Linked DNA regions of Homo sapiens: region 1 is linked to region 2. The links come from fine-mapping of genetic effects on gene expression. A gene starts in region 2. The other region holds a variant in brackets. All regions are shown on one strand. Distances are between the middles of the regions. Region 1 holds the start of WBP2 (WW domain binding protein 2). Region 2 holds the start of MRPL38 (mitochondrial ribosomal protein L38).

What was found.
Region 1: its variant is fine-mapped to the expression of MRPL38 in whole blood (TOPMed, PIP above 0.99).

Annotation. Positions count from the first base shown.
Region 1 is chr17:75,853,915-75,859,282 of GRCh38, forward strand. WBP2 (WW domain binding protein 2) reads right to left here and starts at 1,421. Exons shown (of 8, transcript NM_012478.4): 1 at 1,325-1,421. The coding sequence starts at 1,383. RefSeq lists enhancers at 1,507-1,636, 2,245-3,040 and a silencer at 2,007-2,176. The variant C/T (reference allele first, on the strand shown) is at 2,988.
Region 2 is chr17:75,902,170-75,907,532 of GRCh38, forward strand. It overlaps MRPL38 (mitochondrial ribosomal protein L38), which reads right to left and starts at 2,715. Exons shown (of 9, transcript NM_032478.4): 1 at 2,640-2,715; 2 at 2,371-2,550. The coding sequence starts at 2,706. RefSeq lists silencers at 2,511-2,560, 2,581-2,630, 2,641-3,120.

The DNA of each region.
Region 1 (5,368 bases), 48 kb before region 2:
GGTGCCTGTAATGCCAACTACTGGGGAGGCTGAGGCAGGATAATCGCTTGAACCCAGGAGGCGGAGGTTGCAGTGAGCTGAGATCGTGCCACTGCACTCCAGCCTGGGCGACAGAGCAAGCCTCCATCTAAAAAAAAAAAAAAAAAAAAAAAAAAAAGAGAAGAGAAGTACTGCTCAGAGAAAAGAAGGAATTACCAGCAACAGGCTGGGCCCATGAAACTCTGAGCGGGTAAGATAGAGGGAAAGTGAGCATGCTGGGTCACTCTAGGCATTTTCCTCTGACTCATCAAACATTCCCAAGTCACAGGGCAGCTGGATGCTGGCCTTAGCTGGGTACAGGGCTCTGACTCCACGATGTCTCCTTTGGGGACTCAGGTGCCTCCTAAGCTCCTTCTGCCTTCAAGAGGCAATTCAGGGTCGGCATAGTTCAACCCAGGGCTGGCTGGTCTGATTTTCAATACCCAAGGAACAAAAGGAGACAGAGGCCATTTAAGGCTTCTCTTGGCAGAGACTGGAGGAGAGACAGGATGCAATGAGCAAGGGGTGGGGAGGATGGAGTGGAAAGAACCTTGAATTAGGAGAGCTCTGCCTTCCGAGGTGACCCAAACCAACAGGCATTCAAGAGAGAGGCAAGGGAATGACTACGGACCCACACAGTGCCAGGAACTGTTAGACACCTGACAAACGTCATCTGTTTAATTTCACCTCTGGGACCTCAGTTTTTTACCGGGAACCTGAACAGTTCTGGAACATACTGGAAGCCTGTATGCTGGTGGTTAATCCTATTAACTTTGGAGTCAAGACTCCTTTCCTGGAATTACCACCTCTGTTACTTACACAGTTGCGATCTCGGGCAAGTTACTTAACCTTTCTGCCCTCCACTTTCCCTACCTGTGAAATGTGGACAGTAGTAGATTATACTGCACAGAATTTATTAAATAAGGTAGAAAAGGCGCAGAGCCTGACACGTAGTAACGTTGTAGACATCCAATAAGTGACAATTATTTTTGTTTGGGGCTCCTCCCAGCTACTGAAATCACAAGTCTGGGAAGGGGTTCAAGAATCACCCCTAGGCCCCACCGGGGGCCCCATACCAGGTCCCCATGCAGACGTCCCACCCCCGCCTCCCAGCTGATCACAACCTCCCGGGCTCTCCCCCACGGCCCACCCACCTTCCTCCAACCCCGCCCCCAGCCGTTCCCCACCAACCTCACTCCATCAGTGCTCCCTCTTCAGGGGCTTATTCCCCACCACCCACCACCCACCGCCCACTTCCTCGACACCCGAACTTTGGTCCTCCAGGATCCTTCCGCAGTGTTTTCACCTCTCGGTGTTATTGACGATCACTCCGCCGCCCTCCGAGTGATTCTTGTTGAGCGCCATAGTCTCTCCAACAGGGGTCCCGAGACTCAAAACGCAATGAGCTTGCGCCCCTCTTCGCCCCGCCCCTAGTGGCGTCTTCTTATTAGAGTCAGCCAATCAAAGCTCGAGTGCGGAGGCTGGCCCAAACACCTGACCCGAACGTCACGTGGTAATAGTTTACTCCCTCCTTCCAGTTCCTCCTGCGCAACAAACAAGATGAAGACTACAATTCCCAGCAGGCAACGCCCCCGCAGCCTCGGCCTGTCCCTATGCTGGAGGAAGGATGCATTCTGGAACTTGTAGTCTCCTGGATCATAGGCCTGAATTGGTTCCACATTTTGCGTAACCAATCGGCTTGTGCCATCCCCACCCCGCCTCTTCAGCCGGACGGAAATAAACAGTTCCGCTCCTGGCAGGGGCGCGATCTTGGGGACTCCGGCAGCGCGTTAAGGGAAGTCCTGCTGGTCGAATGCGACCTGGACATGGCGTGGGAGCGCCGAGCTGTCCCCTTGTGGATGGGGAGCTTTCGTTCACTCAGCAGACGTTTATGGGGCGCATGCGTGACTCTGGGGCGTTTAGCTGAGCCGGAGGCCCCGGCTCTTGGGGACGCGGTGGGCTGGCGGCGTCGGATCACCCCGCCATCCATCTCACCACTCCCAGCGCTGAGCCCGGGGGGCGGGGAGAGTCCCTCATGGGAAGGGGAGGCCGTGTGCCCCGCCTGGCTCCCACCACGTTCGCAGGCCGGCCGGGCGCCCCTCGCAGCCCCCTCTCCGGCCTCGCGGTGGCGCCGCTCCCCCCTTAGCGCCCAGCGGGGTCCCGGCCGGAAGACTGAAGGCTGAGTGGGACTGGGCACGGCGCGAAACCGGCATCCTGATAACTAGGATTTACAGAATAAGGCTGACTCCTGTCAGCTCGTGACCCAGCCCTGGGCGTCCTCCACGGGGCAGCTGTCATTCCCTAACCGCCCCCCACCAAACCCCTGCACCTCCGAGCTGAATCCGTGAGGCGGAGAGAGGGGGCTGCACTTCCCACGTGGTAGTTCCGGTACTCGTTAATGTTAAGGAATTAGAGTTTGCTTTTCAGTAGACAGCTGCTTTCCTGACTGTGGTGGCCAACCTCTAGATCCACCTGCTTGACTTCGCTTTCCAGGGAGGTCTCCTATGTGAAGAAACAAAGCTGCCTCACTAGAAAAGATCAGGAAACAGCAGCGTTCTGTGAGGTCCTGTGCAATACCAGGTTGGACCTTGCGGGACAAGTACAGTGGGTTAAGGATAGTCATAATGAAATCTGCCCCAATGGTTAGATGTATTTTGGCGCCTGCAATCTCTGCAGTCTTTAAAAAGAATTAAGTCAGACTATGTGCTGATATGGGAAGATCATCAAGGGTTATTAAGCACAGAATGCTGTATACATATAGTTGTATTTGTATAAAAAATAGGATCTAGATAGAAAATTTTTGCAAAGATCCATCAGAAAATGTCTGTGGCATTTTTGAGACATGGGTCTAGGAATTTGGGGTGGATTGGTGACTCGGTATGTCAGTATGCATTGTACTCTTTGGTACTGTTTAATTTTTTTTTCCTATGTGCGTTTAAAATATAAATTTAGGCCGGGCGCGTGGCTCA[C/T]GCCTGTAATCCCAGCACTCTGGGAGGCCGAGGCGGGCGGATCACGAGGTCAGGAGATCGAGACCATCCTGGCTAACAGAGTGAAACCCCTTATTAAAAATACAAAAAAAAAAAAAAAATTAGCCGGACGTGGTGGCGGGCGGCTGTAGTCCCAGCTACTTGGGAGGCTGAGGCAGGAGAATGGCGTGAACCCGGGAGGCAGAGCTTGCAGTGATCTGAGATTGCGCCACTGCACTCCAGCCTGGGTGACAGAGTGAGACTCCATCTCAAAATAAAATAAAATAAAAATAAATAAATAATATGTAAATTTAAAAAAGAAAAGCAGGCCGGGGTTTGTGGCTCACGCCAAAGGCGTGAGCCAAATTCCAGCACTTTGGGAGGCCAAGGCAGGTGGATCACCTGAGGTCAGGAGTTCAAGACCAGCCTGGCCAACATGGTGAAACTCCATCTCTACTAAAAATACAAAAATTAGCCGGGCATGGTGGCGGGCACCTGTAATCCCAGCTACTCGGGAGGCTGAGGCAGGAGAATCGCTTGAACCTGGGAGGCAGATGTTACAGTGAGCCAAGATCATGCCACTGCATTCCAGCCTAGGCGACAGAGCAAGACTCCATCTCAGAAAAAAGAAAAAGAAAAGCAAAATCCAGGCCTGGTGCCGTGCCTGTAATCCCAGCACTTTGGGAGGCCAAGGTGGGTGGATCACTTGAGGCCAGGAGTTTGAGACCAGCCTGGACTACATGGCAAAATCCCATCTCTATAAAAATACAAAAATTAGGCCGGGCGCGGTGGCTCACACCTGTAATCCCAGCACTTTGGGAGGCCAAGGTCGGCGGATTACCTGAGGTCAGGAGTTCAAGACCAGCTGGCTAACATGGAGAAACCCCGTTTCTACTAAAAAATACCAAAAACTAGCCGGGTGTGGTGTTGTGCGCCTGTAAGCGCCTGTAATCCGCGCGCCTGTAATCCCAACTACTCGGGAGGCTGCGGCAGGAGAATCCCTTGAACCTGGGAGGTGGAGGTTGCAGTGAGCCGAGATCACGCCATTGCACTCCAGCTTGGGCAACAAGAGCAAAACTCCATCCCAAAAAAAAAAAAAAAAACGCAAAAATACAAAAATTAGTTGTGCATGGTGGCGTGGTTCCTGTAATCCCAGCTAATAGGGAGGCTGAGACATGAGAATTGTTTGAACCTGAGAGGCGAAGGTTTCAGTGAGCCAAGATCGTCCCAGTGCACTCCAGCCTGGGCAACAAAGGAAGATTCTGTCTCAAAGAAAAGAAAAAGAAAAAAAGGAAAATCCCCCCAGCAAAGAGCAGGCAGCATTGGCTGCTCTAAGGACCATAAATGGGAAGATGGGGACAACCTGCCCACCCCTCTCCCACCCCTTTGCCAAATACGTTGGAGACAGGAGCAAGTTCAGGTTTTGCCAGGCCTTGAAGCTTATACAATTTTGGAGGCTGTCTTGGTTGTTTATGTTTTTGTTTTTTGAGACAGGGTCTCATTCTGTCACCCAGGTGCGATCATAGCTCACTGCTTCCTTGGAACTCCTGGACTCAAGTGATCTGGAGGCTCTTTTTAAGAAATAAAATACACAGGCCGGGCGCAGTGGCTCATGCCTGTAATCCCAGCACTTTGGGAGGCTGAGGAAGGTGGATCACCTGAGGTCAGGAATTTGAGACCAGCCTGGCCAACGTGGTGAAACCCCGTCTTTACTAAAAATACAAAAAATTAGCTGGGTGTGGTAGCGGTCACCTGTAATCCCAGCTACTCGGGAGGCTGAGGCAGGAGAATCGCTTGAACCCTGGAGACGGAGGTTGCAGTGAGCTGAGATCAAGCCACTGCACTCCAGCCTGGGCAACGAGAGGAAAGCTCTAACTCAAAAAAAAAAAACAACCCCACAATTATTCATTCACAATACTGTGGCTACAGTGAGGCCTCCTGACAGGAGGGGAAATGACAAGAAGAGGAAGTTGCAGTGCAGAGATAACAAGCTTGACCAGCTCCGGCTACAATGTCCAGAATTTCTAAGTTTTACAAAAACATATGACCATGTGAACACACTTCCTGGGCGGCTCCCATGACTTTGGGGCTGGAACGTACCAGAACTCAAAACTCAAACCGAAGACTTCAACAATGGTTTATTGCTGAACCAGGTGAGCAGCAGGAGGCTCCCCTGGGCCCAGGTCTCAGTACTCAGACCTCTCCTCTGGCCTCATACTCCTGTCTGCCTGTCTCCAGATCTCTTTTTCACTGCAGTATGATGCTCATATTCTCCACACTGGAGCACATCTTAGCGGTGCGCTAAGGAGGAGTGCAGGTTGGCCTCAGATACCAGCAGGCAAGGTCTGGGGCAGCTGAGCCCCTGAACTGGTCACCTGTTTTTT
Region 2 (5,363 bases):
GTGTGGGAAAAACAGGGTCATGACTCACTGCAGCCTTAACCTCCCCAACTCAGTCTCCTGAGTAGCTGGGGCTACAAGTGTACACCATCTCATCTGGCTAATTTTTGTATTTTTTGTAGAGACAGGGTTTTGCCACATTGCCCAGGCTGGTATGAACTCTTGGGCTCAAGTGATCTGCCTGCCTCAGCCTCCCACAGTGTTGGGATTACAGTAGTGTGAGCCACTGCGCCCAGCCATGGTAGCTAATTTAAAAAATCTGAGAGATGGGATCTCATTATGTTGCTCAGGCTGGTCTCAAAACTCCTGGTCTCAAGTGATCCTCCTGCCTCAGCCTCCTAAGTAGCTGGGATTATAGGCGCAAGCCACTGCACCCAGTGAGGGGGCGGGCACATCTTCTTGGTTAAACTGCCTGTCCCTACCTAGTCCTCTCATTCTGTGCTTCAAGCTCTGCTGCTCAAGCTTTCCCTGTGATTCACAGAATTAAAACATACTGTGCAGTCTACTTCCCAGACCTGAATAGGATGTAACTGGGAAGCAAATCAGATACAACTTGAGGTTGTGTTTTTCTTTGAGACAGAATCTCACTCTCTCGCCCAGGCTGGAGTGCAGTGGCGCGATCTCGGCACACTGCAACCTCTGCCTCCCGGGTTCAAGCAATTCTCCTGTCTCAGCCTTCTGAGTAGCTGGGATTACAGGCGCCTGCCACCATGCCCGACTAATTTTTTTTGTATTTTTAGTAGAGACGGGGTTTCACCATGTTGGCTAGGCTGGAGGCTGTGTTTTTCTGATCCCCAAACCAGGTCACAGTTTTGTCTAGGTCATGGGAAACTGAAGTCAATGGTCCTTCCAATTATAGTTGAGATCACCTCCAAGCCTGTTCACAGGTGGCTATGAACACCCAGCTGTCCTAGGTAGAGTGAATGACTGATGCTAGAAGGACTTATAGAAGTGCTTCTCGGCCAGGTGCTATGGCTCACGCCTGTAATCCCAACACTTTGGGAGGCTGAGGCAGGGGGATCACTTGAGGTCAGGAGTTTCAGACCAGCTTGGGCAATATGGTGAAACCCCATCTCTACTAAAAATACAAAAATTAGCTGGGCGTGGTGGCGCATGCCTGTAGTGTCAGCTACTTTGGAGGCAGAAGCAGGAAAATCGCTTGAACCCAGGAGGCAGAGGTTGCAGTGAGTCATCGCACCACTGCACTCCAGCCTGGGCAACAGAGCGAGCCTCTGCCTTAAAACAAAACAAAACAAAATAATAATAACGAAAACATACTGAGCCCTCATCAGAGATGGCATTAGGCAAAAATGCCAATGAATTGCCTCTTTTAATCCTCACAGCAATTTTGTAGCAAAGACACAATTATTTTATTTTACAGTTGAAACAAGCTCAAGGACATTATCCGAGAGGCTGAGCTAGGATTTAAATCGGGCTATTTAGATTCCACGCTTGTGCCTTTAACCACCACAAAACTGCCTCTATAAATGCTAAAGAAAAGAAAAGAAAAGAAAAGCATATACTCCATAAATTGTAAGTTCCTTAAAGGTTGGGGTCTTTTTTTTTTTTTCTTTTTGAGACGGAGTTTCGCTCTTGTTGCCCAGGCTGGTGTGCAATGGCGCGATCTCGGCTCACCGCAACCTCTGCCTCCTGGGTTCAAGCGATTCTCCTGCCTCAGAGGCCTCCCGAGTAGCTGGGATTACAGGCATGCGACACCACGCCCAGTTAATTTTGTATTTTTAGCAGACACGGGGTTTCTCCATGTTGGTCAGGCTGGTCTCGAACTCCCGACCTCAGGTGATCCGCCCGCCTAGGCCTCCCAAAGTGCTGGGATTACAGGCGTGAGCCACCGCGCCCGGCCAGGTTGGGTTCTTTTTTGAGTCACCCTGCCCAGGCCTTTAATTTCATTCAGCAAAGTATTGCACATGTACATCCTTGCACTGTTCGGGTGCAAGGATCCAATGGAGGGCAAGACAAGCAGGATCCCTGTCAACAGGGCGCTTACAATCTGGGGAGAGGCAGCGCACAGTCAGAATGCAGTGTGGCCAGAGTTACCTACAGAGTATTTGAGGCGCACAGAACGGCATCCCAATCCGGAAAGTCAGGTGGTCAAGATTTTAGGAGCAAATATTTTAGGAGCTGGAACTCTAATAGTAGGGGGAGCGAATTTTCCAAGAATGAGGTGCAGAAGGTGTGAAAAATCCTGGGGTGATTAAGCTGCCGATAGCGCACACAGGTCTGCAGGCAGGCCCTCCCAGCGTCCCCAGCATCCACAAGGGCGCCGGCAAGGCTCGCCCAGCGCCCGGGGAAAACGCCGGCGGGTCCCGAGTTCCCCGGGCGGTGGCTGCAGCCCCTGCTCCAGTCGCCCCGCACCTGTCTTCTCCCCGAAATACTCTCGGTAGGTCCGCCACCAGTGCGGGGCCTGCGCCTCCTGCTCTGCTCGGCGCCGGTAGCGGTCGAAGCTCCGGTACTTCTCCAGCCGCTCCAGGTTGCTCAAGTCGATGTCACTGTTGGGCATCGGCCCCAGCGGGGGTGTCCGGCGGCCCAGGACGGCTGCGGGCAGAGAGAAGACGTAAGGCCGGCGCCCCACAGCTCGGGCGACAGCCCCCCCCCCCCCCCCCGCAGAGCTGCCCACCCCTCACCCGAGGTGCTGAAGCCCCGCCATCTCCGACACTCGCACAGCGCGGCTCGCCACCAGGGCGCCGCCATCTTCCCTCCGGCCTGCGACACTGCGGCCGCCACTAGGACCCGGGCACAGGTGGCCAGCGCGGTGCCTGAGCGCACCACAGCAGGCCCCGCCCCTAGGCCCGCCCCCGGGCCCGCGCTGCGGAGCAGGCCTCAGACGCCTGTCCCGGAGGCCCCTGCACCGTCTGCCTCGGGCGCAGGTGGAAGGTGGCCGCGGTCTGTAGACGCCCGGCTCCGGAAGTGCCCGTTGGACGGCGGGGCGGAGCCGAGAGCAGTCATATGCTCGCCCATGGCTGGCCACCAGGGGGCGGCACAGACCGGGGTCGGCCGCCGGGGCCCTCCTCCAACCCCTGGACGCTGCGTCCTGATTTCCCCAGGGACGCAGGCCTGGTTGGGAGAAGGGGTGCGAGCTCCGATTCCGGACTCTGCTTGGGTTTAAAACCCAGATTGAGGGCTGGGCGCGGTGGCTCACGCCGGGAATCCCAGCACTTTGGGAGGCCAAGGCGGGTGGATCACGAAGTCAGGAGATCGAGACCATCCTGGCCAACACGGTGAAAACCCGTCTCTACTCAAAATACAAAAATTAGCCGGGCGTGGCATACGCCTGTAATCCCAGCTACTCGGGAGGCTGAGGGAGGAGACTCGCTTGAACCTGGGAGGCAGAGGCGGAGGCTGCAGTGAGCCGAGATCGCGCCACTGCACTCCAGCATGGGCGACAAAAGTGAAAACTCTATTTCAATAATAATAATAATAATAAAATAATAGTAATAAAAACCCAGATTGTGGCTGGGCGCGGTGGCTCATACCTGTAATCCCAGCACTTTGGGAGGCCGAGGTGGGCGGATCATCTGAGGTAATTAGTTTGAGACCAGCCCTACGAACATGGCAAAACCCTAAAGATACAAAAATTTTTGTATCTCTACTAATGATACAAAAATTAGCCGGGCGTGGTGGCAGGCGCCTGTAATCCCAGCTACTCAGGAGGCTATGGCACAAGAATTAACTTGAACCCGGGAGGCAGAAGCTGCAGTGAGACGAGATTGCGCCACCACCTCGGTGCCAGAGTGAGACACCGTCTCAAAATGCCCCTCCCCCCCCCCAAAAAAAAACCAGATCGTGACCTTACTGTCTTCCTTGTGGTTTCCTCATTTGGGAAAAAGCAGGTTAACACTAGTGCTTACCTGACAGCTGTCAGGATGAAAAGATTACCCTCTGGAAAGCGCTCGCAGTGGTTTGTGTGTTAGCTCAACTATCTCCAACTTCTCATTATCCACACAAAGGCAGAAGTGACCTGGTTAAGTGCAGATGTGAATGTTTCTGGCAGGACTCAGGCTTGCCCTTGTGATCCAGTTCTACCATGGCAAAACTTGGTAGCCTGGGGAATCTGGGACCCTCCTTTGCCCCAGCCCTGGCCCTCCTGCCCTAAAAGGCAAGACTTTTCCATCGCACTTTGCCTCCAGGCCACGGGGCCTTTGTATACGCTGTGTCTTCTGCCTCTCACCTCCTCACTGCCCCACCTTGGCCTGGCCACCACCCAGCCCCAGGAGAGGGGTCTCTCCAGGAAGCCTGCTCTGACATCCCAGGCCAGGGCTGGTGGTGACCAGGCCAGTGGCTCTGGCACCAGCAGAAGCTTGACCCTCACAATCACTTTGAGATGGAATGAGAATGGAATGAGGGTCTCTCCATCCAGCAGGAAGTGGCCACACCTTCCACTGGTTTTCATAAACAGCAGCCAAACAGCTAAACCTTTCACAGTCATTTCTAATCCACCCAGCAGTGTGCACCTGCTACATGCTAAGTGTGGAGGGGAATACGTGGGGCAGTCACACCCAGTCCTGCTCGTAAGGAGTTGCTTATTGTGACATTCCATACTGCAGTTATGCAGTACAGGAGCATAACTGGATTGTGTGTTTACATCGTGGCTGTTTTACCTTGTCCTTTTTTTTTTTTTTTTTGAGATGGAGTTTCTGTCGCCCAGGCTGGAGTGTAGGGGCACGACCTCGACTCACTGCAACTTCCGCCTCCCAGGTTCAAGTGATTCTCCTGCCTCAGCCTCCCGAGTAGCTGGGATTACAGGCATGCACCACCACGCCTGGCTAATTTTTTGTATTTTTAGTAGAGACTTGGTTTCACCATATTGGCCAAGCTGGTCTCAAACTACTGACCTCAGGTGACCCACCCACCTCGGCCTCCCAAAGTGCTGGGATTACAGGTGTGAGCCACTGCACCCGGCCACCTTGTCCTTTTGTTTCTGAATCATTTTCTTCAGCCTCTAAACCCACCCGCTCTACCCCACGACCCTCCCAGCCCTCTCCAGATGAAGATGTATGGGGCCTTGGCAGTTGGCGTGGAAGCTGCTGGCCACCCAGGTGGCGGTGCATTCCTCCATTCTTGTCCTCTTGCTGTCCTAGAACCCTGATTGGCGCTTGCTTGGATATTAACAGTTTGAGAGAGGCTTCACGTGGATTCCCACGTGTACCAACTTGAAGCAAATAACGATGAATATCTTGAAACTAGAAGCAGTGGCTCTACCATTTTAAAAAAATATATGGGGGTCTCACTATGTTGCCCAGGCTGGTCTTGAACTCCTGGGCTCAAGCCATCCTCCCACCTTGGCCTCCTGATAGCAGCTACAGGTGTGTACCACTGCACCAGTTTTTTTTTTTTTTTTTTTTTTTTTT